Linked DNA regions of Homo sapiens: region 1 is linked to region 2. The links come from fine-mapping of genetic effects on gene expression. A gene starts in region 2. The other region holds a variant in brackets. All regions are shown on one strand. Distances are between the middles of the regions.

What was found. PIP is the estimated chance that this variant, and not a neighbour inherited with it, causes the effect.
Region 1: its variant is fine-mapped to the expression of VWA2 in tibial nerve (GTEx, PIP above 0.99). The same link has a PIP of 0.9 or more in cerebellar hemisphere, cerebellum, esophagus muscle, sigmoid colon, spleen and thyroid.

What each region holds. Positions count from the first base shown.
Region 1 is chr10:114,286,918-114,299,797 of GRCh38, forward strand. It overlaps VWA2 (von Willebrand factor A domain containing 2), which reads left to right. Exons shown (of 14, transcript NM_001272046.2): 12 at 2,021-2,572; 13 at 3,323-3,448; 14 at 4,301-7,572. The coding sequence ends at 4,320. AFAP1L2 (actin filament associated protein 1 like 2) reads right to left here. Exons shown (of 19, transcript NM_001001936.3): 16 at 12,343-12,498; 17 at 10,303-10,496; 18 at 10,061-10,183; 19 at 7,907-9,151. The coding sequence ends at 9,125. Among named protein-coding and RNA genes, the nearest start is that of VWA2, 54 kb to the left of the region's middle. The variant CCTAA/C (reference allele first, on the strand shown) is at 7,939.
Region 2 is chr10:114,232,921-114,249,337 of GRCh38, forward strand. VWA2 (von Willebrand factor A domain containing 2) reads left to right here and starts at 6,334. Exons shown (of 14, transcript NM_001272046.2): 1 at 6,334-6,649; 2 at 15,784-15,845. The coding sequence starts at 15,794. It also overlaps the pseudogene AURKAP2. RefSeq lists an enhancer at 6,245-6,953.

The DNA.
Region 1 (12,880 bases), 52 kb after region 2:
GCACACATGCACATGTATGCACACATACACACACGGATGCATGTGCATGCACACGCGCTGGTGCAGCCACACACAACTGAAACAAACGCTTCCTGAGAGGATACTTACCCTGTCTACTTGGGATGCATTCTGACATTTTTCTCTTCTGTTCTGTTTTGCAAGCCATGAAGCTGATTTTTTATGACCCCTATTGGAAGGCACTCTAGAGAACACTGTCCCCACGCAGAGGCCTGGCCCATGGCCAGAGATGTAGTAGCTGAAACACGTCTTTTTTTTCTTTTGAGACAGGGTCTTGCTCTGTTACCCAGGCTGGAATGCAGTGGCACGATCATAGCTCACTGCAGCCTTGAACTCCTGGGCTCACGTGATCCTTCCACCTCAGCCTCCAGAATAGCCAGGACTACAGGTGCACACCACCATGCCCAGCTAATTGTTTTATTTTTTAGAGAGATGTGGTCTTGCTATGTTGCCCAGGCTGGTCTCGAACTCCTGGGCTCAAGCAATCCACCCACCTCAGCCTCCCAAAGTGGAGGGATTACAGGCTTGAGTGAAATGTAAGCCTTTATAGGGCTCCTGGAGTTCTCCCCTTGGTAGGTGGGCATGGGAAGCTACAGATGTGATTCTGCTTCTCAGCCCTGATGCCACCACTCTCCCCAAGGCGAGAGGCTTTCCCTCCTGTAAGGCGGAAGGACAGGGATTGGCTGCCCACTCCCACCCTGCCCCTCCAGGCTGGTCTAAGTGCTTTTGTTCTGCTGCTTTGTTTGGTTGGATTTTTTAAAAAAAATAATAGTTGTAGATTTATAGGAAAAAATAATTGACAATAGTGGAGAGTTCCCTATACCCCACACCCAGTTTCCCCTCCTATTAACACCTTGCATTAGTATGGCACAGTGTTATCATTAATGAACCAGTATTGATACATCATTATTTAGTGAATCCATGCTTATTTATATTTGTTTAGTTTTTACCTAATGTCTTTTTTGTGTTCCAGAATCCCATCCAGGACCCCACAGTACATGTAGTCAGCCGCCTTCCCCGTAGCTGTGATAGTTTCTCAGACGTTCCTGGTGTGGGAGTGGTTTTAAAAACCAGTAATCAGAGCATCAGCTCCTCTAACTCCATACTTAGAATTTCCAGTGGTTCCCCTTTGCACTTGGAATAAAACCCAAACTCCTTCCCCTGGCTTCTGAGAGCTCCCTGTGGCCTGGTCCCCACAGGCCTCTCTGCATCCCCTGCACAGGAGAGGCCTTCTGGCTCATACTTACTTGTCTTTCAGTTCTTAGGTGAAATGTCACCTCCCCAGAGAAGCTCTGACCCCTTCTCCCAGTCTTGTTATGTTCCCCTACTGGTCTCTCTCGAAGTCCCCTGCTTTTCCCTCCACGCTGCCGACATCATTTGTAATTCTATGTTCATTTCATGTCTGTTCCCCTAGACTGTCAGCCTGTTGACAGCAGGCATGGGCCCATTTTGTCCATACAGCATCTAATTAGTGCCCTGCATACTGGGGATGGATGAAGGCACAGGTGAAGATGTTGTCACAAAGGGTTGCCCACAAACCCAAACCCCATGGGTTACATAAGACAGGAACTTATTTCTCTCACATACAGTTCAGAGGTGAGTGGCCCGGGCCAGCAGGGCTTGGTCATCTTATGGCTTCCACCTTGAGGTCCAAGGTCACCATTTCTCAGCCAGCAGGAAGGGGGAGAGGGGAAGTGGAAGGTAAGCAGCTTCCAGCTGCATGAGTTTGAAATTGATCACGTCCGTCAGATAGAACTTAGACACGTGGCCACCCTAGCTGCCAGGAAGTCTGGGAAATGTGGTCTGGCAGGCACTCATCTTCCTGCTAATATTCTAGGAAAGTGCTGTTCTGTGGCTAAAAGGAAGACATAGAGGGTGTATTCTGCAGTGAACAGAGCACCCTGGCTGACCTTGGTCCTACCCAACCTGGCAGTCCCTGGGTCCCGTCGAGGGGCTCTGACTGGCACATCCACTGCTGAAGCCCCTCTGCTTGCTCCTGCAGGGTGCCGGACACAAGCCCTGGACCTCGTCTTCATGTTGGACACCTCTGCCTCAGTAGGGCCCGAGAATTTTGCTCAGATGCAGAGCTTTGTGAGAAGCTGTGCCCTCCAGTTTGAGGTGAACCCTGACGTGACACAGGTCGGCCTGGTGGTGTATGGCAGCCAGGTGCAGACTGCCTTCGGGCTGGACACCAAACCCACCCGGGCTGCGATGCTGCGGGCCATTAGCCAGGCCCCCTACCTAGGTGGGGTGGGCTCAGCCGGCACCGCCCTGCTGCACATCTATGACAAAGTGATGACCGTCCAGAGGGGTGCCCGGCCTGGTGTCCCCAAAGCTGTGGTGGTGCTCACAGGCGGGAGAGGCGCAGAGGATGCAGCCGTTCCTGCCCAGAAGCTGAGGAACAATGGCATCTCTGTCTTGGTCGTGGGCGTGGGGCCTGTCCTAAGTGAGGGTCTGCGGAGGCTTGCAGGTCCCCGGGATTCCCTGATCCACGTGGCAGCTTACGCCGACCTGCGGTACCACCAGGACGTGCTCATTGAGTGGCTGTGTGGAGGTGAGTGGGGGAATCCACACCCTCAGGGCTGCCCCCATGGCAGGCCCTCAGCCTGAGCCTTCACATACATCATGACGAGGATGGCAGCTCTTCCCAGCTACTGAGCACTTGCTTCCCAAGTGCCAGGTTCTGTGCTAAACCCCATGCTCACATAAAATCCTACAGTAGGCATAACCATCCTATTTGACATTTAAGGTACAGAAAGTTTAACTAACATAGATAACTCCCCCCAAACTTGAGAATTTATGCATTCCCTTTAAACAGAACACACTTTTAGAATATCCACAAGCTTCCTAAGGGTCTAAAGATCCCACATTCACACTGACTTGGGCAGTGACAGAGCCCAGAGCAAACAGGGCCAGGCCAGCCCAAATCCAGTGACCTCCTCTTCACCTTCTTAAAAGAGACAGGAGAATCACTTGAACCCGGGAGGTGGAGGTTGTGGTGAGCCAAGATCGCGCCATTGTACTCCAGCCTGGGCAACAAGAGCAAGATTCTGCCTCAAAAAAAAAAAAAAAAAAGTCTGCCATGTGTATGGCACGTCTGAGCAATGGACTCTCCATGAGTCTGTAGGAGAGCTGGGTCTTACTAACCTAGCCAAGTGGTATGCAGCACCAACCATGAGCTACCGGGGCAAAGGGAGACATGACTCTAGTAGCCTTGCACCTCTACTGGGCTTACTTAGGGTAGGGGTCTTCGGGTCTAACCCATGCCTGGCCGGCCTGGTGGGTATGGTGTTCTCCATTGTAGAAGCCAAGCAGCCAGTCAACCTCTGCAAACCCAGCCCGTGCATGAATGAGGGCAGCTGCGTCCTGCAGAATGGGAGCTACCGCTGCAAGTGTCGGGATGGCTGGGAGGGCCCCCACTGCGAGAACCGTGAGTGGAGCTCTTGCTCTGTATGTGTGAGCCAGGGATGGTATTGCGAGTCCTGCCAAGTCCCACAAACTCAGCTGAAGGCAGGTTCTAAAACATTCGTTCAGTGGAAGAAATTATTCAGTCGTTTACCCACGAAACATTTAGTGAGTACCTCCTGCATCCCAGGCATTGTTCTCAGTGCAGGAACATAGCAGTAAACAAATGAATAAAACCTCTGCCCTCATGGAGCTTCCATTCTAATGGGAAGACAGACAATAAGCAAATAATACAACATGTGGTGTGGTAGACGGTGCTAAGCACCCCGGAGAAAGTCATGACAACTAGGAGGGAGGCCACAGTTAGGAGCACAGTAGATCCAGGGTACAGGGATGTAGACGGAGGCAGGGATGGGTAAATGCGGTGGTGGGAGCTGCTGGAAGCTCTTTTTGGGGTGCTATTTGCTCAGTAAAATGGGAGGAACAGCTAAGTGAGGACGAGGAGGAGGTGCTAGAGGTTTGAGAGAAAAGAAGTCATTGTCAAGGGTAACAGATTAGGACCTAGAGAGTGATCGTTGGGAGGCATTAGAGGTCCAACTATGGCTCCTGTTCATGAGTTTGAAGTTAGAACAGCCAGAAATCAGAAGACAAGTCCAGTCGGAGCCTTGGTTTTTTGGCCACGGGCAGAGGTTGGCTTCCTAAGGCCAGAGAGAAGCTCTGGAGGATAATCACATGGGGTCTCTAATCTGGCATCTTCTGCTGGGGGCGAGGTGGGTTGTAGAGTAAGAGCAGGACCTGAAGGGGTCCTCAGAGGCTGCTGGAGGGCTGAGAAGGGGATGCAGACACTCCTGTCCTCAGACTTCACTTCCTTCCCCAGGATTCTTGAGACGCCCCTGAGGCACATGGCTCCCGTGCAGGAGGGCAGCAGCCGTACCCCTCCCAGCAACTACAGAGAAGGCCTGGGCACTGAAATGGTGCCTACCTTCTGGAATGTCTGTGCCCCAGGTCCTTAGAATGTCTGCTTCCCGCCGTGGCCAGGACCACTATTCTCACTGAGGGAGGAGGATGTCCCAACTGCAGCCATGCTGCTTAGAGACAAGAAAGCAGCTGATGTCACCCACAAACGATGTTGTTGAAAAGTTTTGATGTGTAAGTAAATACCCACTTTCTGTACCTGCTGTGCCTTGTTGAGGCTATGTCATCTGCCACCTTTCCCTTGAGGATAAACAAGGGGTCCTGAAGACTTAAATTTAGCGGCCTGACGTTCCTTTGCACACAATCAATGCTCGCCAGAATGTTGTTGACACAGTAATGCCCAGCAGAGGCCTTTACTAGAGCATCCTTTGGACGGCGAAGGCCACGGCCTTTCAAGATGGAAAGCAGCAGCTTTTCCACTTCCCCAGAGACATTCTGGATGCATTTGCATTGAGTCTGAAAGGGGGCTTGAGGGACGTTTGTGACTTCTGGCGACTGCCTTTTGTGTGTGGAAGAGACTTGGAAAGGTCTCAGACTGAAATGTGACCAATTAACCAGCTTGTTTGATGATGGGGGAGGGGCTGAGTGTGCAATGGGCCCAGGTCTGGAGGGGCCACGTAAAATCGTTCTGAGTCGTGAGCAGTGTCCACCTGAAGGGTCTTCCTTTCAAAAGAGGCTGCGGCCAGAGACTGTGGCTCATGCCTGTAATCCCAGCACTTTGGAGGCTGAGGCAGGTGGATCACCCGAGGTCAGGAGTTTGAGACCAGCCTGGCCAACGTGGTGAAAGTTTGTCTTTACTAAAAATACAAAAGGTAGCCGGGGGTGGTGGTGGATGCCTATAATCCCAGCTACTCGGGAGGCTGAGACAGGAGAATGGCTTGAACCTGGGAGGCGGAAGTTACAGTGAGCCGAGATCTCACCACTGCACTCCAGCCTGGGCAACAAGAGTAAAAATCTGTCTCAAAAAGAAAAAAATGTACTTAGGAGGGGTTAATTGTGGCGTGTTTATGGAATTCTTTCCTTATTCTCCTTTTAGTGGGGCAAAGAGAAGTAAGATTCTTAAACTCAAAAATATAGGATAAAGAAACTTACAGAGATTTTGCTTTTTAAAGCATTGATCTTACGCTGTCTAGGTTTTAATTTTGTTTTGCTTTGCTTTTCTACACAGTTTTTAAAGAAATATTTCAAGAAATGTTGGTTATTTATTAAACAGGGATATTTGTACCTATGTGGCAAAGAGGCATATTTGGAATATTCTCTGGCAAACTAGATACTTACTTCCCTATCGCTGCAGTATTTAGGAATTACTTCTTCTCCTTGGTTGTGTTGTTTAGAGTTGGATTTTCTGTAGAAATCTTTCTAGAGCTCTGATGTGACTCCAGACACTTTATCGTTTTTCTTTTTTTTGAGACGGAGTTTTGCTCTTGTTGCCCAGGCTAGAGTGCAGTGGTACAATCTTGGCTCACTGCAACCTTTGCCTCCCAGGTTGAAGTGATTCTCATGCCTCAGCCTCTTGAGTAGCTGGGATTAGAGGCAGGTGCCACCATGCCTAGCTAATTTTTGTATTTTTAGTTAGAGACAGGGTTTCACCATGTTGGCCAGGCTAGTCTCGAACTTCTGACCTCAGGTGATCCCCCTGCCTTGGCCTCCCAAAGTTCTGGGATTACAGGGGTGAACCACTGTGCCTGGCCCATTTTTCTTTATAAATATTGTAACATAATGTTTTATAGACAAACATTCAAGGGTACTTTGGCTTTAAGAACTTCAGGATTTCTGGTGCTAGAAAAGCGCTTGAAGCAGTATCACCAAGATTTTAGATATTAAAAAGTCTGGTGTACCAGACATTGAGTCATAATCATCTATATTCAAGGGATACTTTCATTGATAACTTTGTTATTATGCTGCCCTTCACAGAAGACAACGTCCGGGGCAGGATCACATGCTCCCTAGCAGATGCTGATCAGTGATGTCATAGAAATTACATGAATGCATTGTCTTTAAATAGCAGTTTAACCATGTTATAATGTAGGCTTTTTGTCTTGTTCCGGGCTGGTATTTGGGTGCCCTGATTGAATTACTTGGATTTAAACAGCAAACTGTGGGCTCTCGACTTACATAGTAAGGGCCTTTACTGTTTCTTTGTAGGAAATGGGTTTCTCGCCTTTGAAACATTTTTTCCCCTTTTGTAGTGACAGTGCCACTAAATAGTTCAGCTTTTGTCAGTCCCCCAGGAAAGTGCTATCCTATGGCCTAACTAGCCAAGCCTTTTTTCTTTCATTTAAAAGAAATTAGCTTTAATTTTTACCTTTAATTACTTATTCAAATAAGACAGAAATATATTTTCCTTGCAATAATTAAAACATTGCATATAGGCCATAAATTTCCTTATTTTCTCTGAACGATCCTGATTCCAGTCATCTTGTTGAATACCCTAGTTCTAATAATTGACTCTTGCTTTTCTAGAGAAATATTTCCAAATGATGCTAGTTTTGTCTCTTCCTTTCAAAGTTGTATACCACTTCTTTTTCTTGTCATTTTGCATTGCCTGGGACCTCCAGAATAATGTTTCATGAAGTAGCATGTATCCATATCTGGTTCTTGACTTTTTCATCATAATAATTGTTTTCTATGGGTTACTTATCAGTTTAAGAATGCTTAATTCCTAGATGAACTAAGAGTGTTTATTACATGTTGAGATTTATGGTATGCTTTTTCTTCCTCAAGATAATGCATTTTTTGTATTATCTGTTAATGTGATAGGTTATCCATTTGTGTATTTTCAATCATTGAACAACCCTTGATTTTTTTGGATAAACTCTATTTGGTCATTATGCATCATTCTATAAACCCTGCTGAATTTTTCATTTGCCAACATCTTATTTCAGATTCTTTTAATCTGTGTCCAACAATGAGATTTGTTTTCTTTTGCAATTTGTTTTGAATTTTTGGTATCAGAGCTATACTAACCTTATAATGGAAAATACATATTTCTCAAACTTTTACACTGATATATTCATAGTATTTTTTTATAATTTGAAAAATCTTGTCAGTATCTGTATTAAGGCCTCCATTTCAGTTCTGCTATTTCATATTGCCTTAGGTTGTCTATTTGTCTCTTTAATGAACCCGATTTTGATTTTGTCATTTTTAAAATAAACACATTTATGCTATAAACTTCCTTAATTACTACTTAGGCAACCTTCCCAGTATTGGTATGTTTCTTTTTTCCCAAGAATTCTTTAGGAGTATATTTAACTTCTGGGAGGAGTACTGATTTTTCATTCACTTATATATGATCAATTTCTGCAGATGTTTCCTGTGTCTTTGGTATGTTGTTAACTGTACAACTAAAATTTGCTTTCAGCCTTATCTATGCTCTTTGATTCAAGGAGGCTGAGTTTCCTGCTAGGATCCCATCTTGTAGTTCAGTGTGTAAATAACCAAAACATTTCCTCCCTTGAGAACCCCCCAGGCCCTGCCCCAAGTCATTTCATGAACTGAGGAAAACTTCAAATACAATGAACATTTTATTTTAAAAAA[CCTAA/C]CTAACTCACCACTTGGTAAAAGGTCACCAAATGTTTATGAGAGAGGAAATAAGAATAAAAAAGACATTTAGTTCTCAGGAACAAGTGTTAGAGAACTGATACACAACCCTCCAGAAATGAGGCAGAGATAATAGATGAAATGTTTCAACCTGTGTTAAAAAAAAAAAAAAAAAAATGCCATCAGAGGAAAAGACAGGGGCAGCACAAGGAACAGCACTGCCAATTTTAAGAGGGCGATCACCCTAACCAAAAATCACCACTTTGTTCTTGGAAGGAGAATGAACATTAAACAGAACTTAAAATCAGAGACTATTTATATTAAATAACTCTTCCCTTAAAAATGGCCTGACCACAGCAATGAATCTGTAAACACAGAGTAATATTTTTCCTACAGTAAAGAGTCACTTTAATCTCAAAAGATACTTTTCACTGTTCTAAATGACAGGATTTTAAGCATTTTTTCCTATATATAATACAGCATCACTTAAAATTTTATTTAAAGACAGTTGATTCAGGCCTGCCTTGGACTGGAAAGAAGTCTTTAACTTAGTGGGATTAGTGCTTCAGCTTGGTCCCAAATATTTTCCCCATTATTGTTTCTCAAAACTCATGTCATAGATGGTTTTACAGATGATGGTTTTACAGATGATGTCAATGCTGTTTAAAATCACTGAAGACTGAGTTGGGCCTGGTAATATTGGAGAGAACTGAAGGCAAGGATGGTTTAATCCCCAACTGCTAAGTATTGGATAAGAGATGATGGCCAGGAGTTTAGGTCTTCTCACTCACCAAAGACACGTGACCCATAAGACAGGGCCCTGCTTCCTTGATTCATCTTCCACCAAAGTCTAAACAGGAGGTTTTCACTATTTAAAAATCTTAGTAAAGCAATTGATGACAACTTCAAAAAAGAAAGAAACACAGAACATCCCTAAATACAACGTCTTGTTTACATCCAATAGACTTAGGTCTCCAAAGAAGCCTCCTTTTTGTTGTATTATTTCCTTTGGCTCTGAAAAGGGACAGAGCCTCCTCTTAGCTGAAGCTCTCCATTCACAGTACCTCAGTCTTTGCTTTTTCTTCTAAACAGACTCACCCTTTCGCATAGTTTTTGCTTTAACAAAGCAGGATTGTCACCAAGGTCCACATTGACATGAGAGTCTTTAGATGAAGCTTGTTTTCTAACTTGCTCCTTTCTTCTCCCATTCCTAGGGTACCATTCAAATACCAGCACCCACCCCCCACCAAAAAGATAGTTAGTTATCCACTGTAGCAACCTTGATATACATAGAAAAAATGTGAGAAAAACTATTTTAGGCACAGAGGTGATAAATGTTTCAAACCCTGTGTGTTCATCACTGCTTAGAGTGCCTATTCAGAGATTTTGAGACTGTGGCACAACAGCGAGTGCCTATAAGTGATGTCTCTCACAGCAACAAGGGAGTGGAGGTTCAGATGCTTGCATGGATTTATTGGTTAGCCATTGTTGTGGGACCTCCAAATATCTCCAGCAGGTAAGGAGGATAGGAATAAGGAGCAGAATTTGCCAAAAGCAAAGGCAGCCCTAGGCATGTTCTTTAGTGTACAAATGAGTAAATGAGTAAATGATTAATGATACTTTTTTGACTAGCCATCAGGGAGAAACCGCATCATAGCATGGATTCCTCATTCACAACTTGCTGAGAATTTTGCCAGTAGTTGGGTGGGCAACTTTGGGCAATTCAAACCACCTATGTGAGTCTGTTTCTTTAGTTTTAATGGTAGAAGTCCTGTGGAGTCACTGACTGACTTTTTGGTTTGAAAACTCAGTCATAATCTGTCCCTGAGCTGCAGCTGGCCTCCTGGAATCTACCCATAGCTGTGTGGAGGGCAAGAACTGAAGCATCCCCAAGCTCACAGGGAAGGATGCTCGAACCAAGTGCAGACACCTTTCTGGTTGGTCAGTGCCAGAGACTGAGCTGAAGGCATGGCAAAGCCATGGCCACTCCTTGGTGAGTGCCGAGCCCTTGCTCAGAGCTGGTGCCAAAAGCCACAAAGCACCACCTGGGTCAGAAGATGGGCCCCTACCTTAGTGACATTTCTGCTGGCCCCAAGGGAGGCTGGGAGTGACTGCTTACCTTGGCTTTCTGGAGTACAGTGCCTTTGCCTGTGACCACGACCGAGAGAGGCCTGTTCTTGAGTGTGGTTGCAGAGTTGACTGGGGTACAGTCTGGGGCAGAGGCAGGTGTGACAGCTTTGGGCTGTGGTTATAGGAGGAGAGCAAGGGCTGAGTCAAGGGGAGGGAGATGTGACCCACCCACCCCAACCCATGTCCAGGGAGCCCTGCAAGCAGCCCAGAGGCCGCAGTTCCAGCACTCACGCGGGGGCTCACATTCTCCAGGTGGGTGGTGTCCACGGTGGTGCCTAACGTCACAGGCCCTGCCTCAGCCTTCTTCAGGTTGTCCTTCACCTCCATGATGCTGAGCTCCAGGTCCACGCGCCTGCTCTCCTCGCCCCGGCACTCCTCGTCAATTTCCTTCAGCTTCTGCTCCAGGCTCGCCAGGACTTCCTTGTCTGGAGAGAGAATTATGCAGGTGTCAGAGAACAGCATCTCAGCCCAGGCCAGGGAGCCCTGCTGGGTGGAGGCAGGGTCTACATACCCCGCCACCCGAGAAGGACCACAGGTCTGGCCCCAACACTCAGAGCCAGGAGGGGCCTGTATGCCGGGGCAGCCTGGAGGCCTCCTTTAGCTAGCATTCTGCAAAGGCTGGGAGGCTCTTGGGGAGGAGAGCTCTGGCTTCACTAAGGGGCATGAGTCTGAGGCCTTAAGTCCCTTCTTGTAGGTTCTCAGAGACTCTTGGTTGCTTTGACAGTGACCCAAAAGGGTGAGGGGCTTTATTCATGGCCCATGGAGGAGGGCTGGGCAGCTTGACCTGCCCTACCAAGTTCCCTCAATCCTCTGGCTTCCCTACGCCTAACAGAGCAGGAGTCCTCAGCCCTGGCTCCTCCTGTTAACCCTGGACCTCTTGGGTTGATGCTGCCACACCGTGAAATGATGCCTAGGGCCTGTATCCTAGAAGCTCACTGCTGGAGGAAAGGATGGTATCACATATGTACCACATAGAGTCCTGAGCACAGGGCCACTGTTTAAGAAAAATTCACAGATGCTATTGAAGGACCATCTCTAAAGAGGGAAGGAAAAGAAAACGTATACTAATAATGTTTTGAAGATTGGAGTTTAAAAAAATACAGTTCAAGCTGGGTGCGGTGGTTCACGCCTGTAATCCCAGTACTTTGGGAGGCTGAGGCAGGCAGATCACTTAAGGCCAGGAGTTCGAGACCATCCTGGCCAACATGGTGAAATCCCATCTCTACTAAAAATACAAAAATTAGCTGGACATGGTGGCGGATGCCTGTAATCCCAGCTACTCAGGAGGCTGAGACAGGAGAATCGCTTGAACCCAGGAGGCAGAGGTTGCAGTGACCCAAGATCACGCCACTGCACTCCAGCCTGGGCAACAGAGCAAGACTGTCTCAAAAAAAGAAAGCCAGTGGGTGACTTTGCACCCTCAAGACCTTCCCTCACCAGTCAGCTGAGTTTGTCCTCAAACCTGCACCGCTGCTCTTGCTTATTCATACACCTCTACAATTTAAATAAGCACAAAGTTACTCCATGAAAACTAAGTCAAATACTTTGGAAAGGTTCTAGAAGAGGCAGGTTGCAGCTGGGCATGGTGGCTCACGCTCACACCTGTAATCCCAGCACTTTGGGAGGCCAAGGCAGGTGTCCCTTGGGCTCAGGAGCTCTAGACCAGCCTGGGCAACATTGCAAGACCCCATCTCAATATTTTTTTAATTTTGAAATTTTAAATGCAGCAGATTGCCAGGAAATAGCTGTCAAATGATACGAGTGTGATTTGGAAGATAATCTAGAAAGACTTCTTGGCAAGTATCTTAAGTTTTTGTTGACTTTCAAGAAATGAAGGCTGGAAATGAAGGCTGATGCATTAACAGGTGTAGTTAATGCATGAAGGATGACATGAGACTCCAGTCAGCCAACCAGAGCTCAAAAAATCTGCAGTGCCAGGTCCTCAAAAGATGGGCCAAGGAATATGCATTTAAGTGACAATAAAACACGGCCTATGCATAACCCTGTAAAACTTCCTTTAACTAGCTTTTACGATGACCTGCTGGTCCTATTGATGTTCCGTCAGAGGCTTTCTCTCTCTGTCCAGGAGAATGACCTTTCAGACAGGATTGGAAGAAAGGACACACAAGGGAGCACCCACCCAGGCCAAGGGTTGAAGGGGCCAGGGCCCACTGATTGAGAAGGTGTGGTGACAGCCAGATCTTCCGCCAAAAAGTTAAGCCTACACGGCCCTCTGAGCTGAGGGTCCCTCCCCACTGGGGGCCCCCTTACCTGTGCATTTCAGTAGGGTTTCCTTTAGCTCCCGTTTCTCTTTCCGGAGCTGAGCCAGGTGCCCCCGGATTTCTTCCTTCTTCTTTTCAAGCCTCTCCTTCTCCTCTGTGTACCGCTTCACCTCAGCTTCTGTCCGATTCTTGCCAAGCTTGATCTCTACAGACCCAGAGAGGGAAGCCCCAGGTAAGCAGAGCTGGATCATGAGGGCTGTCCCCAGTCTACTCCCCAGGCTCGGATAGAACCTGGGGCTTTGGCACAAAGCCCTGCTAGGCTGGATGCCAGACCTGGACAGGTCCCTCTACCTCTCTGAACTTGTTTCCTAATCTGAAAACGATGGTGTGATGGTTAATATTGAATGTCAACTTGATTGGATTGAAGGATGCAAAGTATTGTTGCTGGGTGTGTCTGTGAGCGTGTTGCCAAAGGAGATTAACATTTGAATCAGTGGACTGGGAGAGGCAGACCCGCTCTCAGTCTGGGTGGGCACCACCTAATCAGCTGCCAGCATGGCTAGAATAAAGCAGGCAGAAGAACATGG
Region 2 (16,417 bases):
AGACATTTGAATAGGAACTGTTTTAATTAAATGGAATTTAATATTATTTGCTGATTCAGCTAATTTGCCTTGTTCTCCAAAAGAGACTAGTATCTATAGCACTAGCCTCACAAATAGAGATATAGGTTAAATGTCTCTTGGATTAATGAGACATACTGGATCATCAGGTCTTCCTTCTGAGTAGATTTAACATGTTTCCGATTTTGATTAATGTGCCAGCTGCATGTTTCATTCGTTCAATGAATATTTGAGCTCCAGCTATGAGTCTGACATTGAGGTATGTGCCAGATTTTTTATTTGGGCCAGCACAGCTCTATCATACCAGCTAATATGTTCTTCACATCCCCTCAAAATATCTGGTTTGGTCATAAATACAGTAGAGCTTCAGTCTTCAGATCCCCTCAGAATATCTGGTTTGGTTATAAGTACCATAGAGCTGAGACCGTATATCTGAACAAATGATTTAGTCTTGGGTGGAGGCCTTGTAAATATTAAGATAAATCTTACCCAGTTTGCCAGGGAGGAGATTTCTATCATAAGAACAGTGAACTCCTGGGGGTTGACAAGGGGATAAGGAGCATATTTGATACACTTCTTGTTTTGCTAAAATTCTTTTGCTGCAGCAGCTAGAAATGTAAAAGTCTCAAAATTGTGAACGAGGATTAACTACTATTCTGAAATTGATCTCTCTTGCTATGTAATAACAGCTCCGGAAACCAACACGTGAAGATCCTCACCAGCGGGACCCTAAGCTGCCAAATTCCCAGAGAGAAATTAAGTCATTGTGAGGCTCACTGCTGAGAGAGTGTCAGCCACGAGCAATAGATCACTAGTGTTACTAATAGGCTCCTCACCAACACAGCTGCCTGGAATTGGCAAGTCGAGCTCTTCTGGGATCAGCCAAAGAGGACACCTGGGCTCCTCCCCATGTAGGTGGTTTTGTGGCCCTACTTGCATCCAAACAGCCCTTAATACACACAAAATTGTCGGAGTGTTTTTTGCTTTTTCCAGATAAAGGGAATTGGAGGGTAACCTGTGGTTCTAAACATGCAGTTAAGAAAGAATGGTAGAATGGTTTTACTTGCCGGAATTAAGGTGGTGAAGTTCTGTTAGAAGTAAGGTTACTGCCCAGTCGCACAGGGTGAGAACTGCAGATGGCTCACCCAGAGAACCAACCATTAACGTTCTGGTATTGCCCTGGTCTACGCGCTGCAGTCTGATTTTCCTAGGAAAGTTCTTGCATTTTGGCTATAGTTTCAAGTAACCTAAAACTGGCTTCATTTAAGGTGTTAGCTAGCTGCCAAGCCTTAGCCATTTTTTCCATGCTTGCTTGCTTCCCTTATCACCCTGAGGGGATGCCATTTTTAACACCTTGTGGTGTTAACCTTTTGATGAAGAGGCCCCTATCTCCTGTGATGAGAACCTTCCAGGAAGTGAGACAGACTCTGATGCTTATTATAAGGCAGGAGCCTACTCTGCCTCCAGAGTATACCCAGATGCCTCTCTAAATGTGTTCCATGAATACTTAGTTAAGGCAGACATGTGATGACTAAAATTCATGATACTGGGAATTTGGAGAGGAGATGGAAATAACATGGAAGTATTGACAGTTTGAGGTAGAGCACTTAGAAAGTTTCATATGTTGGCTGAGTGGTTATTACACAAGCGTGTGCCTTTGTTCCATGTTTACTTGATTCGGCCAGAAAGCACATTTCCCAAAAGCAAATCCAATACAACTTTGCGCATAATTCTCACTGTCTTAAGTAGGAGCTGGGATGGATGCATTAACCCTTCAAACAATTGCTGCCTATTCCATACCTAAGTGGCTTTGGCTTGGAGATGGCAATATTTCTGCTCCTCATGTCCTGTGTCTCTCTCTGCCCCCAACTTTGTTCTCCTTGTTCTTGGCTCCACAGTTAAGAGACCACAGACCAAATTAGGCTCTGGCTTAATTTGCTGCTTGTTGAGCGCTTCTGAGTCAGGCTCTTTGTTTCCTCTAGGATGGTTTCTTTGCTGTTTAGTAGGTACTGTTTCGTGTTCTTTTATTTCTCAATAAGAGGGCTCTGGTTAGTGGCTGCTATGTGGCTTCTGGAAAATATACAACTCTTGGAGCTCTATTAAGCATCCTCCTTTTTGTCTGTTCCTTTCGTGTGTGCTTTACCTTTCATCATTTGAGGGACTGGATCAAAATATTAGTTGGGATTCTAGAGTTAGGAACTGTTGTACCCATCACCCTTTATAGGTCAGGAAACTGAGCAATCAAAAGTTAAGTTTCTTTTCTGTGTTACAAAGCCAGTAGGCAGGAGCCCCCTAATCTGAAGCCACAGTCACTTTACTACAATGGGTGCCTCTGGGTGATGCATGTCACCGAGTACGGATGTCTCCATTTATCCCTGAGTGAAATTCAGTCACCTCTGTGTTTACACTCTCAGTTTACACTAAGACTCTGTGTTTATACCTCTTGTGTTTACAACTGAGACACACGGGACAGCGCAACTTGAGAATTAACATCATAGAAGGTGTCAACTGAAGAATGAGAAAGTTCATGAATTTGGAAAGGAGAGCTTTATTTTTCATAAAGCGTGGCCACTGGCAGGGTAGCCATTGCTACAGTCTGGAAAGTGTAGCCTCCAGCCAGAAACCAGAAACACACTTCCAGGTTGGGAAAAATAAGACAGGAATTTATGCTGAGTGGAGTGGCCAAATACACAGTAAACTATAGGAGGAGTCATGAATATTTATGAAAGATGTACATGTGCAATTAAGCTTCATGACTCTTGATGGGTTACATGTACAAAAAAATGGTATTAGCATGATTCTGGGGTGGAGTTTTTGGCCCTCTTGGGTCAAAAGGTGAAGCAGAGGACACAACTCTCATGGTACATCTTCTATAGACTAGCCAGAGCCACTCCATGGTCCATTGTCTCTTAGGAAGGAATGCTGGTTGCTTGGTTTGTTGAAACCTTAAAAGGAAGGGGCAGCATCAAGTGGTTGGTTCATATCAATAGTAGAGGCCAGGTGCAGTGGCTCACACCTGCAGTCCCAGCACTGTGAGGATTCCTTGAGTTTGAGGAGTTCAAGACCAGCTTGGGCAACAGAGCAACACCTCATCTCTACCCAGAACAAAAAAACCACCAGTGCAATGGTACGTGGCTGTAATCCCAGCTACTCTGGAGGCTGAGGTAAGAGGACTGCTTGAGCCCAGGAGGTCAAGGCTGTGGTGAGCTATGATTGTGCCACTATACTTCAGCCTGGGGGATACAGTGAGACCCTCAAAGATAGCAGGGGTGGAGCAAGTCTTTCCCAAAGGGCTGGTTTCTGTTTAACCCTTAAGAAAGAAGGCTGGGTACTGTGGCTCATGCCTGTGACCCCAGCACTTTGGGAGGGTGAGATGGACAGATTGCTTGAGCCCAGGAGCTCAAGACCAGCCTGGGCAACACAAGGAAACCTCATCTCTACCAAAAAAAAAAAAAAAAAAAAAAAAAACCTGGTGTGGTGGCACGTACCTGTAGTTCTAACTACTCGGGAGGCTGAGATGGGAGGATTAATGGAGCCCAGGAGGTCGAGGCAGGTCTTGAGCCAAGGTCACACCACTGTACTCCAGGCTGGGCAACAGAGCAAGCCCCTTTCTCCAAAAAAAAAAAAAAAACTAATGGCTGATAGTGAAGGAGCAGGTATAACAAGCTGTTTCCCGTCTCCCTTCCAGTCATATATGGGAACTCCGCTTTTAAGATTTCTCTGGATAATTTAAGGTCAGGAGTTCGAGACCACCCTGGCCAACATGGTGAAACCCCATCTTTACTAAAAATACGAAAATTAGCCGGGCCTGGTGGTGGGCGCCTGTAATCCCAGTCACTTGGGAGGCTGAGGCATGAAAATCGTTTGAACCTGGGAGGCGGAGGTTGCAGTAAGCTGAGATCCAGCCACTGCACTCCAGCCTGGGCAGTAAAGCGAGACTCAGTCTCAAAAATATTTCTCTGGGGTCCCCTTGGACAAGAGGGGGTCCTTTCAGTCAGTGGAGGACATGGGGTTTTATTTCTGAGGGCATTTACTGTGTGCAAGTTACCAGGCATTGGGCTGCAAAGATGAATAAGGCAAGCTCCTGGGAAGCAAGAAGCTTACATGCCCCTTAGAATGATTGTAATTCATAATAACTTTATTTTTTAAATCCTTGTAAATCTTCACAAAGGAAGGGATGTCATGGATGACAAAAGTAGCTACCCAGCTTTCTGCATAAAAAGCCTCCACCCCTGCTGGTCACCCACTCAGCACTCAGCACTCACCAGGGCCTGCACCACCTGCCTTCCCTCCTGCCCAAGTGCACACCCCGGACAGACTGATTATACATTGATGTGAAGAAGTCTGAAGCAACAGGTATCTTCACTGTATTTATGCTTTCAGTTCTTCATAATCACAGAATGAAAATGTGAAATACCTCCCCCCCCCCCGCCCCCAATTAAAGACATGCCAAATACTTCAGGAACAACCAGGATTGAAATTTGGCTTCTCCAAGGTAAGCCTGATAAGGTCAAAGTATGCTGGTACCTGTTAAACAGCATAAGGGGTACAGGGAGAGGGTTGTCAAAGGTAGAATTTCCACTTTCTTGAGGACCTGGGGTCTGCCCTTGTTGGACATCTCTGGAGCAGCACAGGCCACTCACCCCATTTGACTATACAGCACTTAAAAATGTGGCGAGTCCAAATTGAGATGTGCTTGTGAGTATAGAATACAACAGGATTGGCCAGGCGTGGTGGCTCACGCCTATGATCCCAGCATTTTGGGAGGCTGAGGCGGGTGGATTACCTGAGGTCAGGAGTTTGAGACCAGCCTGGCCAACATGGCAAAACCCTGTCTTTACTAAAAATACAAAAATTAGCCGGGCATGGTGGTGTGCACCTGTGATCCCAGCTACTCGGGAGGCTGAGGCAGGAGAACCATTTGAACCTGGGAGGCAGAGGTTGCAGTGAGCCAAGATCATGCCATTGCACTCCAGCCTGGGCAACAGAGTGAGACTCTGTCTCAAACAAAAAAAAAAAAAAAAAAAACAAAAAAACAGGACTTTGAAGACAGCATAAAACATCTTTATTGATTACATGTTGAGATAATGTTCCGGATGTTTAGGTTAATACTGAAATCCAGCTTGCTGTTTCTTTTCACTTTTTATTAAATGTGACCACTAGAACATTTAAAATTACACACGTGGCTTGGTCAGTATTTCTCTGGGGCAATGCTGATCTAGAGGCAGAGACCATCCCTCCCCAGCAGTTAGACCTCAAGACTAACTGCTGTCCCCTGTGGGGATGATGTGGTGGTACATTATGTCTGCTGCTCTGGTGTGGCCCTGTTTTTATTTTTGGGTGCTCAGTAAATGTTACTGGGAGAAATGAATTACAGGAAAAATGAGTCCTTTCCTAGCCTCCTTCAATGAGGTTTGCAACATTAAAGTCACCACGGGCCACTTTCACTGGAAGCTGTCAGTGTCGGAGGTTTGGAAATTAACTGAGAACTACAGACAGGAAAGGTGTAAAGCAAATTATTTTCCTATCAGATTGACATTTACAAGAATAATGGGAAGGAGCATGGAAAAGAGGAAGCAGGTCAACCTTCCTTGAGGACAATTAGATAATAGGCATCAAAAGTCTTAAGTTGTATAAAACCTGTATCCTAGAAATTTACCTTTTCGTAGTTTATTCTAAGGAATTAATTGGACAAAAGCACAAAGACATCTAATTGTATTATTAAAATGGAAAGTTTAATATTCAACAATAGCAGATAGGTTAAGTACATTAGGACATTATGAAGTGGCTTAAAACGGACATTCAAAAAAAGGAAATGGAAAACCTGAGTAATGTACAGCTTGTATGGAATGAACTAAAAATATATAAATTTTTGCATAGGTAGAATGACATTGGAAGAACATACACCACAATGTTAACTGATTATCTCTGGGTGTTGGAAAATGATTGATTTATCAACTTTTTTACTGTTATTTCTTTTCTTTTTTTTTTTTTTGCAATGAACAGGCATGCTCTGGCAGTTTTTAAATGAAGTATGGAAATTATGGATTGTGCAGTCATAGTCAACGTTCATTGAGAGCTTACTTTATATAAAGCATCATGCTCAGCATTGTGCTTTGTGGCATTTGATTTTTTAAAAATCAAACGCCCTCCAATCTTAAGCAAGGATGATGGCCAAAAGGTCGGCTTATTACCCAACTGCAACAATAGGAGGGACAGGTAATTAAAAGGCAATTGCCATGACAAATAGAAAAGATGCCAAAGTCAACATTTTTTCAAGGAGCTATAAAGCCCGTGGAGGAGTCAGCTGACGGCACAGTGTTCGCGGCTGCACCGCTCGGAGGCTGGGTGACCCGCGTAGAAGTGAAGTACTTTTTTATTTGCAGACCTGGGCCGATGCCGCTTTAAAAAACGCGAGGGGCTCTATGCACCTCCCTGGCGGTAGTTCCTCCGACCTCAGCCGGGTCGGGTCGTGCCGCCCTCTCCCAGGAGAGACAAACAGGTGTCCCACGTGGCAGCCGCGCCCCGGGCGCCCCTCCTGTGATCCCGTAGCGCCCCCTGGCCCGAGCCGCGCCCGGGTCTGTGAGTAGAGCCGCCCGGGCACCGAGCGCTGGTCGCCGCTCTCCTTCCGGTGAGTCCCAGCCCCGAGTTGGCTCTGGCGCCCGGGTACCCGCCAGTGCCGGCTGCCGATGACCGATTCACGCTCCCGGTACTGGGGCCCCCTCTGCCCAGCCACCCCTACCCAGAGCACCCGGGCTGCGCGGCCCCGCCGAGGGTGCGGGCTTTGTTCGCATTGTCTGCGCGCACCTGAGCGCGGCCTTCCTGGCACGGCGGCGTCGGGGGAAGAGCGCACCTGGCGCGCGCCTCCCTCGTGGCCACTCGCGGTCCGTCCCGGGCGAGCTGGCGGGGTTTTGGGAGGGGTGCGGTCAGCAGGTAAGTGGGTAGGGGCTCCGGGTACAGGGGTGGAGGAGGGCATGTATTAAACCCAAGCTGCCCTCCTGGCACAGTAGCGGGGCCCCCTTCCCTGGCGGCCGCGGAAAGGGACTCGCCCTTTGAATAAAGGCTTTGGTGACATGCTCGCTTCCACCCCACACCCCACTACAGGACATACACAGGTGTTAAGGGGACTTGGGGCAGTTTTCCCAGGCAGAACGAGTGCCCCCAGCGAAGTGTCTGCAAGCAGAACCTGAGAGGGGCCGGCTGCCCCGAGAGTCCTCGCGCTTGGGCAGTGGGAAGTCCAGGGGTTTGTCGTTCTGGTGACTTCCCCCACCTGGCTCAGCCCTGCTTCCTGCATGTCTCCTTCCCTTCCAATAAGGCTAACAAAACTTTCCCTAGCTAAGCCGACCTTTCCCTCCCGCCTTGGGCCCTTGGCCACCTGCTGGGACGGTGAATGGGAGAGTCTCAGAATTGAACCTTGAAAACTTGCTGGGGGCACCAGACAGAAGAGAAGGGAGGAGGGCACCTTGCTGCTTGTGATTGTGGAATCAAGGGCTCCAGCTGAAGCTGAAAGGGGACTTAGCAATGGGGACCTCATGCCATGTGTTTGATGTCTTGGAGATTGGAATAATTAGAACGTGTACATTTTTCAAATTACAAGCTGCTTTAAGTAAAACCCCAGAACCTCTAAGTGTTTTATAAATTCAGTCCCAAAAATTCAAGGTCTCTTTTGCTGTTAAGGTGACACTATATTAAGAAATGTCGATTTATTGAAGAGTCAGAGAAGTGAAGAGGTCAGAAAGGTACCACTAGAGTTGGCAAAAGCCACAGGCATGAATTTGTAAATGCTGCTGGCTTTCAGCAGGCTGAAGCCATCCTCTCTTGTGACTGATGGGGGTTCAGAGCTCCTCAGGCCTTACTCTTCTTTTGTAAAATCCAGCCCAGAGCCATCTCCTAGTAGTGTAAGAATTTCTCAGACTAGGTCCCCAGGCAAATCCCAGGTTGGAGAAGAGGATTGCTTTCCTCATCATCTCTGGCTGAAAACCATCAGTGTATTTTCATTAAATCTGGTTTTTGGTCTACCGTACAGAGATTACAGCCAGTATTTCCCCTCTCTTCAATAGGCACAAGCCCCTGGGATATCCGAATCATAGTCAGAAGCCCATGTTTTTACAGATGAGGAAACTGAGACCCAGTTTTAGAGTGTTAGGTTCAAAGCAAAATTGAGCAGAAGGTACAGGTTTCCCATATACCTCCTGTCCCCGCCTATGCACAGACTCCCCCATTGTCAGCATCCCCCACTGCAGTGGTACATTTGTTCCAACTGATGAACCGACACTGGCACATCATTATGACCCAAAGTTCACAGTTTGCCCTGGGGTTTGCTCCTGTTGTACATTCTATGGCTTTGGACAAATGTAAAATGACATAAATCTGCCATTATAGTATCAAACAGCATAGTTTCACTACCGTAAAAATCTTCTGTGCATCCCACCCTCCCTACAACACATGGTAATCACTGATCTTTCTACTGTCTCAATAGTTTTACCTTTTCCAGAATGTCTTATGATTGGAATCATGTAGTACGTAGCTTTCTCAGATTGGTGTCTTTCGCTCGGTAATATACACTGACATTTCCCCTCCTGGCTTTTTAATGAGCATCATAAAAACAGAATAGTTATTTGGCAGTGACGGCATCATAAGCTTGTGGTGAAAATGCCTTTTTTGTTAATAACTCCCCTGATGTGTGTGCATCTTACAAAGCATTGTCCTCACATCCTCAGTACCTGGAAGGGTACCGGGCACAGGGCAGATGCTTAATAATTTTTACTGGGTAAATGAAATTTCATGTAATTATAGCAATGAGAGGGTCAGCAACACTACGAGGTTGTTTTAGAACAGTGGTCCTCAAACTTTTGCAGTGCATATATCAGTAAATGAAAACCTAGTTTAATTGGGAGGCCTGCAATAGAATTGCTCATTTTTAATTTTATCCAATAAGGCTATTTTAAAACAAATCCCACCCCCCTCCCTATCATCAAGGAGGCTATTGGAAGTCTGTTGGTGATTGTGTGTGTGCATTCCCTGCAAAATGTTTCTGTATAACCCCAAGGCAGCACAGTGGGACAGCTGAATGTATTTGAAGTCCCTTCCTTTGTGTGACCTTTCGTCTTCTAAACAGCTCTGGACTGCTTAATTTTCCTCTTCCACCTACCACATTAGCTGCTGACTTTCCTTGAATGTGATTACTACCCTCGGTCCTCCCCTTCCTTTTCCTGATCATGAGTCTCTTCTCTTGAACTAGATTTCCCTGGTCTCAAATTAGGAAACTTTGCCCTTGCCCCGGGAGCCTTTGCATCGTGGTTTCATGGGGTCCTGGCGACAACCTTTCCAGGGAAATAGGATGGATGGTGTTACCTCCGTTTTAGAGAGAAGGAAATTGAGAGACTGAAGTGGAGGAATTTACCCAGGAGGCTCATGCTCAGGTATCCTGCCATCAGATGGTTGCTCTTTCCAGAGCATCTGTGTACCGCATGCCTCATAGTACCAGGTGCATCTGCATGCCGATGCCTCTGTGTACCACGTGCCTCTGTGTACCAGTGCCTCTGCATACCGCAGTGCCCCTGTGTACCAGTAAATCTGTGTATCAGTGCCTCTGCATACCAGTGCATCTGTGTACTGTGTGCCTCTGCGTACTGGTGCCTCTGTGTACCGCATGTCTCTGTGTACCACGTGCCTCTGTGTACCAGTGCATCTGTGTACCGCGTACTTCTGGTCATAGCTGAGAAGTCCTGGGCTGGACTCTAAGCTGGGTTTTTCTCGCTCTGTGGCCTTGGGTCTCGTCTTCTCCAAGATCATTTCTTCATCTATAAAGATGTAAATGATAATATCTACCCTACAGATTATGGGTGTTGTTAAATGAAATGAATATATTAAATGTAATGATAAACTTTTAACATCATTCATTTAGAAAACATTTTACTATTTAGCAGAGACTTTTCTACCCTGTCTCACTGGATCTTTACAACACTGGGGGAGTTTATGAAACAGATTCTCCCCATTTGGCAGATGAGGAACTAAGGCAGGGGAGGTTGTTGCTTGCAGTCACCCAGCTGCTAGGAGCAGAGCTAGGTTGGAATCCTGTCTCTGGACTTTGGGTCCTGTGTGTGTTCTCCCACACCTCAGGGCTAATCCCAGTGTCCCATACAGTGAAATCGGGTTGTGTACAATTTAAAGCATTTTCAGATATCATCCATCAAAACAAACATGAACTCTCTTCTGGCTAAAAATGTGTCTGCAGATGCAGAAAGTATGGGAGGGCTTGTGATCTATGCCCATCTTCCCAGCTTTTCTCCCTAACCCTCCAGGGAGTTCACAAATGGCATGTTGCTTATTTCTTGGTGCGGACTTTTGGTTGTTAGGCCACTGGGTTCTGAAAATTTACTAATTATTTTAGGGGGAGCGTGACTTTCCCCAGGCAGCTTTTTAAATGCTCTCTCTGCCATATCAAACTAGAAATGTGTCATCTACCTCCGTTGACACTCTGAGCCTGAGCCAAATATTTTACCAAAGGTTACAAGGAAGATGATTGTTCCAGCAAGGACTTCCCCACCGGATATTTTTACCTCTGATTTTAGTCTTCCCATTCAGGTGTGTACTGTTCTGGTAAAGGGCTCAGATTTCCATCCTGCTGATTTGGAGGAGGCTGCCAACGGCTAATCTATTTGGGGTTGGAATTGCATTTTGTAAGGAGGTAGAAATGGTTTCCTCTTTTTCCCTACACTCATTTCATTTCCGATGGTAGAGAAGGCAGACATTATCCTGCAAAACTGCCTTCAGCGATCCCCAATCCGGCTCTTCTTTTTTTAAAAAGTAGCTTTGTTTTGGCTTTTATTTCTTCCTGTGTCACGGAAAATGTAATTCCTGGGTAGTGCACAGTGGAAATTTTTGTGGCATCCTGCAGCAGACTTCACATGCCTGCTGTCCCAAGTGCAGCTGGTGCTGCGTGGGAACCAGGATCCGAAGGCCACACTCTGTTGAGGAGATCAGGGGCGTGGAGAGCATCTACATCCATGGATGAGAACTCCAGAAGCCAGGAATAACAAGTGGGATTAGCATGAGTAATGGAACAGAAGGGAACAAGGTGATGAGCGAGGTGTAACGGAAAAGGCTTGGTGAGGCATACCTGAGAATGGGTGGTCTGTTCCAGCCCCTGGCTTGCAGATCACTCCCAACTACTTTGTAGGAAGCCAGAGGGCCCTGGTAAATCTCATCTTGTGCCGGATGGAGTGTGAGAGCTGCTGGCAGGTATTAGCTGGGGGAGAAATTGCCAACGTGCAGGATTCAGGGTGGCAGATTTTTTAAATTATGCTTCTGTGCTTCTGAACTGCCTCTAGTTCATAGCCTGTTTTCTGGAGCCTGGACTTCTGCCAGAGTGTCACCTCTTACCGGCAGCCCCAACACCTCTCCCTTGTTGAACATCCTGTGGCAGCTTCCCCCAGAACCGGGAAGGTGACGCTAGGAGGCCAGAATGGAATCTGATCCACTGATTAGCTGTGTAAGCTGGGGCAGAACACTTCACTTCTCCATGTCTCAGCTTCCTCACCTGTGAAATGGGAATAGTACACCCTCCCTGGCTGGCTGCGAGGATTAGGAGAGAAGACATGAAGGGCGGAGCCTGTGTGTCTTGTGGCAGGCACATAAGAAATGCTCATTACATGGTAGTAGCTGTTGATTTTTATTGTGGAATTCACCCTTTAAAAAAAAAGCTTTCCAGGTGTAGGGCTGTATTTTGGAGGTCAAATTAGTATTGTAGGAAAATTTTGATATGAGAGGGGAATGAGCTGCCTATTCGAGATGACTGGATGGGAATAGAGTGCAAACAATACTTCAACATCATCGCAATAGCGTTCATTTCATTAATCTTGGTATAAAAAAGAATGCAGTGAACACAGTGAGTGCAATGATGCCCTGAAAGGGTCCCTCTAGCCCTCCCACAGGAGGTATTCTGGTGCTTTGTTTATCTAGCAAGCAAGGACCTCCCCTACTATACATCAGGCACATGCAGGTCTCTGGAGCTCCAGCAGAGACTAGATAGTCTGTAGTCTCAGGCATTTGCCGCCTGGCAGTCAAGACAAACGTATCACTGGGCAGTTTCAGCGTGGGCTGTGTGACAGTAGGGATTGTATTGAGGGGGACAGGGGAGGGAGGTGCTGCAGAAGTTGCAGAGCCAACACCGTCTGATTGATCCAAACAGCTAGGAGAAGGCATTTGACATCCTGTGTGCATTTGCAGATTGCCAACATACATTCTATTTTAATGAGCAGAAACTTGGGCGCCTCTGGAAAAACATGCAGCTGGGCAAGCAGAGGCACATAGTGGATCGAGATCAAGCTGCTTAAGTTGGTCTCATAGCACGGAGGGAAGGGGACTGTGTTTACTGGGTGCCTTCCTATGTGGCAGGAACCTTCTGTACTTCCTTCCACTTTATCCTCACAGCAGCCTGGGGAGGTGGCTGCCAGAATCCTTGTTTTATAAATAATTAACAGGCCTGAGCCTCAGTCTCCTGCCAGTGCCCAGGGTCAGAAGCTGTAACTCCGTAAAATCGTCCTGAACCTAAGGAATAGAGACAGCATTGAGAAGCTCTTCACCGCATCCTCAATGCCTCGCCATTGCCTGACTCACAGGCGGCAGGTGGGGGCTTGTTCTGCCTCTGTGGTGTGGAGTAAGAGGGAAAAAAAAAATGTCCTTAGGGGAAAATGAGTCTTTCTTGCTGGCATGCACAGGGCTGGAAGCTAGCAGGAAGTATGTGCTGCAGGCCAGTATCCTTCTCACCACCTTTCTCCCTTTGATCGTGTCTGTAGAGCTCCTGACATACTGGCTCTTGCCATGTTAGGTGTCTGATTTTCACTTAGATCAGGAGAAGACTTGAGCCTCTTAGTCATTTGAAGCAGGAAGACCCTGCACGAAGACTCTCAGCTGGCAGGGACATTTGTTTTATAATAGTTTGTTTTAGGACTGCTTTGAAATCCAAGGAGCTCTATAGACAGTTCCAAGTGGTGCATATTTTAGAATTAGGTAGAATCTGGTGGCATCATGGAAATAACCACACAGTCTGAGAATATTGGGTGGTCAGTACATGCTCCATCCTCCAGGAGGACCACTCTCTGTGGCACCCTGGACTACCTGCCCCCGCCCCCCGCCCAAGATGATTGGAGGTCAGATGCATGGTGAGAAGGTAGATCTCTGGAGCCTTGGTGTTCTTTGCTATGAATTTTTAGTTGGGAAGCCTCCTTTTGAGGCAAACGTACACCAAGAGACCTACAAAAGAATATCACGGGTTGGGCTGGGCATGGTGGCTCACGCCTGTAATCCCAGCACTTCGGGAGGCCGAGGCGGTCGTATCACCTGAGGTCAGGAGTTCAAGACCAGCCTGATCAACATGGTGAAACCCCGTCTCTACTAAAAATACAAAAATTAGCTGGGCGTGGTGGCGCATGCCTGTAATCCCAGCTACTCAGAAGGCTGAGACAGGAGAATCGCTTGAACCCGGGAGGCAGAGGTAGCAGTGAGCCAAGACCATGCCATTGCATTCCAGCCTGGGCAACAAGAGTGAAAGAAACTCCATCTCAAAAAAAAAAAAAAAAAAAACGAGTATCATGGGTTGAATTCACATTCCCTGACTGTAACAGAGGGACCCAGGACCTCATTTTAAGACTGTTGAAGCATAATCCCAGCCAGAGGCCAATGCTCAGAGAAGTACTTGAACACCCCTGGATCACAGCAAATTCATCAAAACCATTAAATTCCCAAAACAAAGAATCAACTAGCAAACAGTCTTAGGAATCGTGCAGGGGGAGAAATCCTTGAACCAGGGCTGCTGTATAACCTTTCAGGAACATGCTACTAAAATTTATTTTACCATTGACTGCTGCCCTCAATCTAGAGCGCTACAAGAAATATTTGTTTTACTGAGCACCTGGCAATGCCTGAACCTCCCTATTCAGAAAGCTCCACATCAATAAACATGACACTCTGAAGTGAAAGTAGCCACAAGAATTGTGCTACTTATACTGGTTCGTAATCTGGAGGCAAGGTTCCGCTGCAGCTGCCCCCTCAGCCTGGGCCAGGCATGGTTTCTTCCCAGGAGACAAATCCAGAGTGTGGCTGTGGGGAAAGTGACCACTTTGCCCTGACTCGATCGGTTAAGGAGCTGTGCAATAACCTTCCCAGTACCTGAGTGAGTGTGTCACTTATTGGGTTGGCCAAGCCTAGTAAAGCTGTTGGAATGAGGATGTGATTCTTTTTAAGTGTGAAAAAAAAAAAAAAGATTTCTGTACAGATTTGTATTTGTTCTCTGGTGGCATTCCCTTAGAAATGCTCTGTGTCTGTCCAGCACCCCGGTAGGCCTGGTTGGGTTTCTAGTCATCTTTAACCACTTATCTCCCATATGAGAGTGTATAAAATAGGAACACATGCTCTACCTCCATTTAGGGACTTGCAACCTCTGCATCCCAGGTTCAAGTGATTCTCCTGCCTCAGCCTCCTGAGTAGCTGGAATTATAGGTGCCCACCACCATGTCTGGCTAATTTTTTGTATTTTCAGTAGAGACACTGTTTCACCGTGTTGGCCAGGCTGGTCGTGAACTCCTGAACTCAGGTGATCCACCTGCCTCGGCCTCCCAAAGTGCTGGGATTACAGACAAGAGCCACCGCGAAGGGCTTATTTTTTAAAAAACACTGGAGTCATGGCATGTGTGTAAACTTTAAATATGCAAATAACTATGTCAAAAAAAAAAACAAAACGGAGCTGGATGTATCTTGAGGTCCAAACATCATAGGTCCATGATGGAGGCAGGAGTCCAATGGGACTTTTAAAACCATAAAACAGCTTAGCCACATCAGGGCCCTTCTCTTCACTTTGTAAGGGAGGAACCACAGCCTCTCCCAAGGTCACAGGGCACCAGGATGAGGATGAGGGCCCCTGGGTTCATGTAGGCTCTCTGCCACCATGGGGCAGGTGTGGCTCCTGCATGGGTGGTGAAGTTTTTTTTTAAAAAAACTTCTCAAAAAATAATTTTTCTCAGCCAAGTGTGGTGGCATGTACCTGTAGTCCCAGCTACTCGGGAGGCTGAGGCACAAAAATCACTTGAACCCCGGGAGGCGGAGGTTGCAGTGAGCCAAGATCGTGCCACTGCATTCCAGCCTGGGCTACAGAATAAGACTCCATCTCAAAAAAAAAAAAAAAAGTCCTCTTCCTTCAGCCGGATTACGATTTATAAATAATTTAGATGATTAGTGGATAATTTAGATAGTGCAGGCTTTCTTCAGATGTTGTCTTCTTAGCTAGGGGAAGGTTTGTTAACCACATTAGAAGGTTTCAGAAGATGAGGACATTGAAAATCAGATCTTCAGCCTGTTGAATTCTAACTCCTCATGAAGAAATGGAGACCCTGAGAAAGAAGTGACTTTGCCCAGGGTCACGTGGCTAGTCAGGGCCCAGGCAGAGCCAACACCCGGGCCTCTTAACTCTGGGGAGAGCAGGAGAGCACACCTTCCCAGGGCCCGTGGAGGGCTGGGGTGCATTTGGGGGTGGATGAGAGAGGTATCCTGGGGAAGATGTTAGCTTGGTGTCTAAAACCAAAGTAATTGGAGTAAAGTCTTCCATGACTTGGGAATTGGGGACTTTTCTAGTTATTGTGGTGAGGGCCTCCAGGGTCATATCTGTGACCTGGAAAAGGCTGAGTTGGCATCTTGTTTGGCGGTGTGACTTGGGGCGTTCACAGAACTAATTGCTGATACTTTCTTTCTTTTCCTGTGTCCCTGTAGTTATATCAACATGCCCCCTTTCCTGTTGCTGGAAGCCGTCTGTGTTTTCCTGTTTTCCAGAGGTAAGATGTGTTTATTGGTGGTGGGGAAGTACTGGCGTGTTGAGTAGGGGGGTTGCTTGCTTCAAATCCTGTTGATTTTCAATTCTAAAGGTCTCTTGAATCCACCTGCATCTCCCCTCCATGGCCACCTCCCTAGTCCAAGCCATGTCATCTTGTGCTTGGACCACTGCAGTAGCCTCCTGCCTGGCCTCCCTGGGTCCCCCGGTCCTCCTCCAACCCATTCTCCATGCAGTGGCTATTTCTTTTTTTATTTTTAAGTTCCAGGGTACATGTGCACGATGTGCAGGTTCGTTACATAGGTAAATGTGTGCCATGGTGTGTGCCATGATGGTTTGCTGCACCTATCAACCCATCACTTAGGTATTGAGCCCAGCAGGCATTAGCTATTTATCCTGATGCTCTCCCTCCCCACCCCACCACTCGACAGGCCCCAGTGTGTGTTGTTTCCATCCCCATGTCCATATGTTCTCATTGTTCAGCTCCCACTTATTTTATTTATTTATTTATTTGAGATGGAATCTCTCTCTGTCACCCAGACTGGAGTGCAATGGCGCAATCTCTGCTCACTGTAA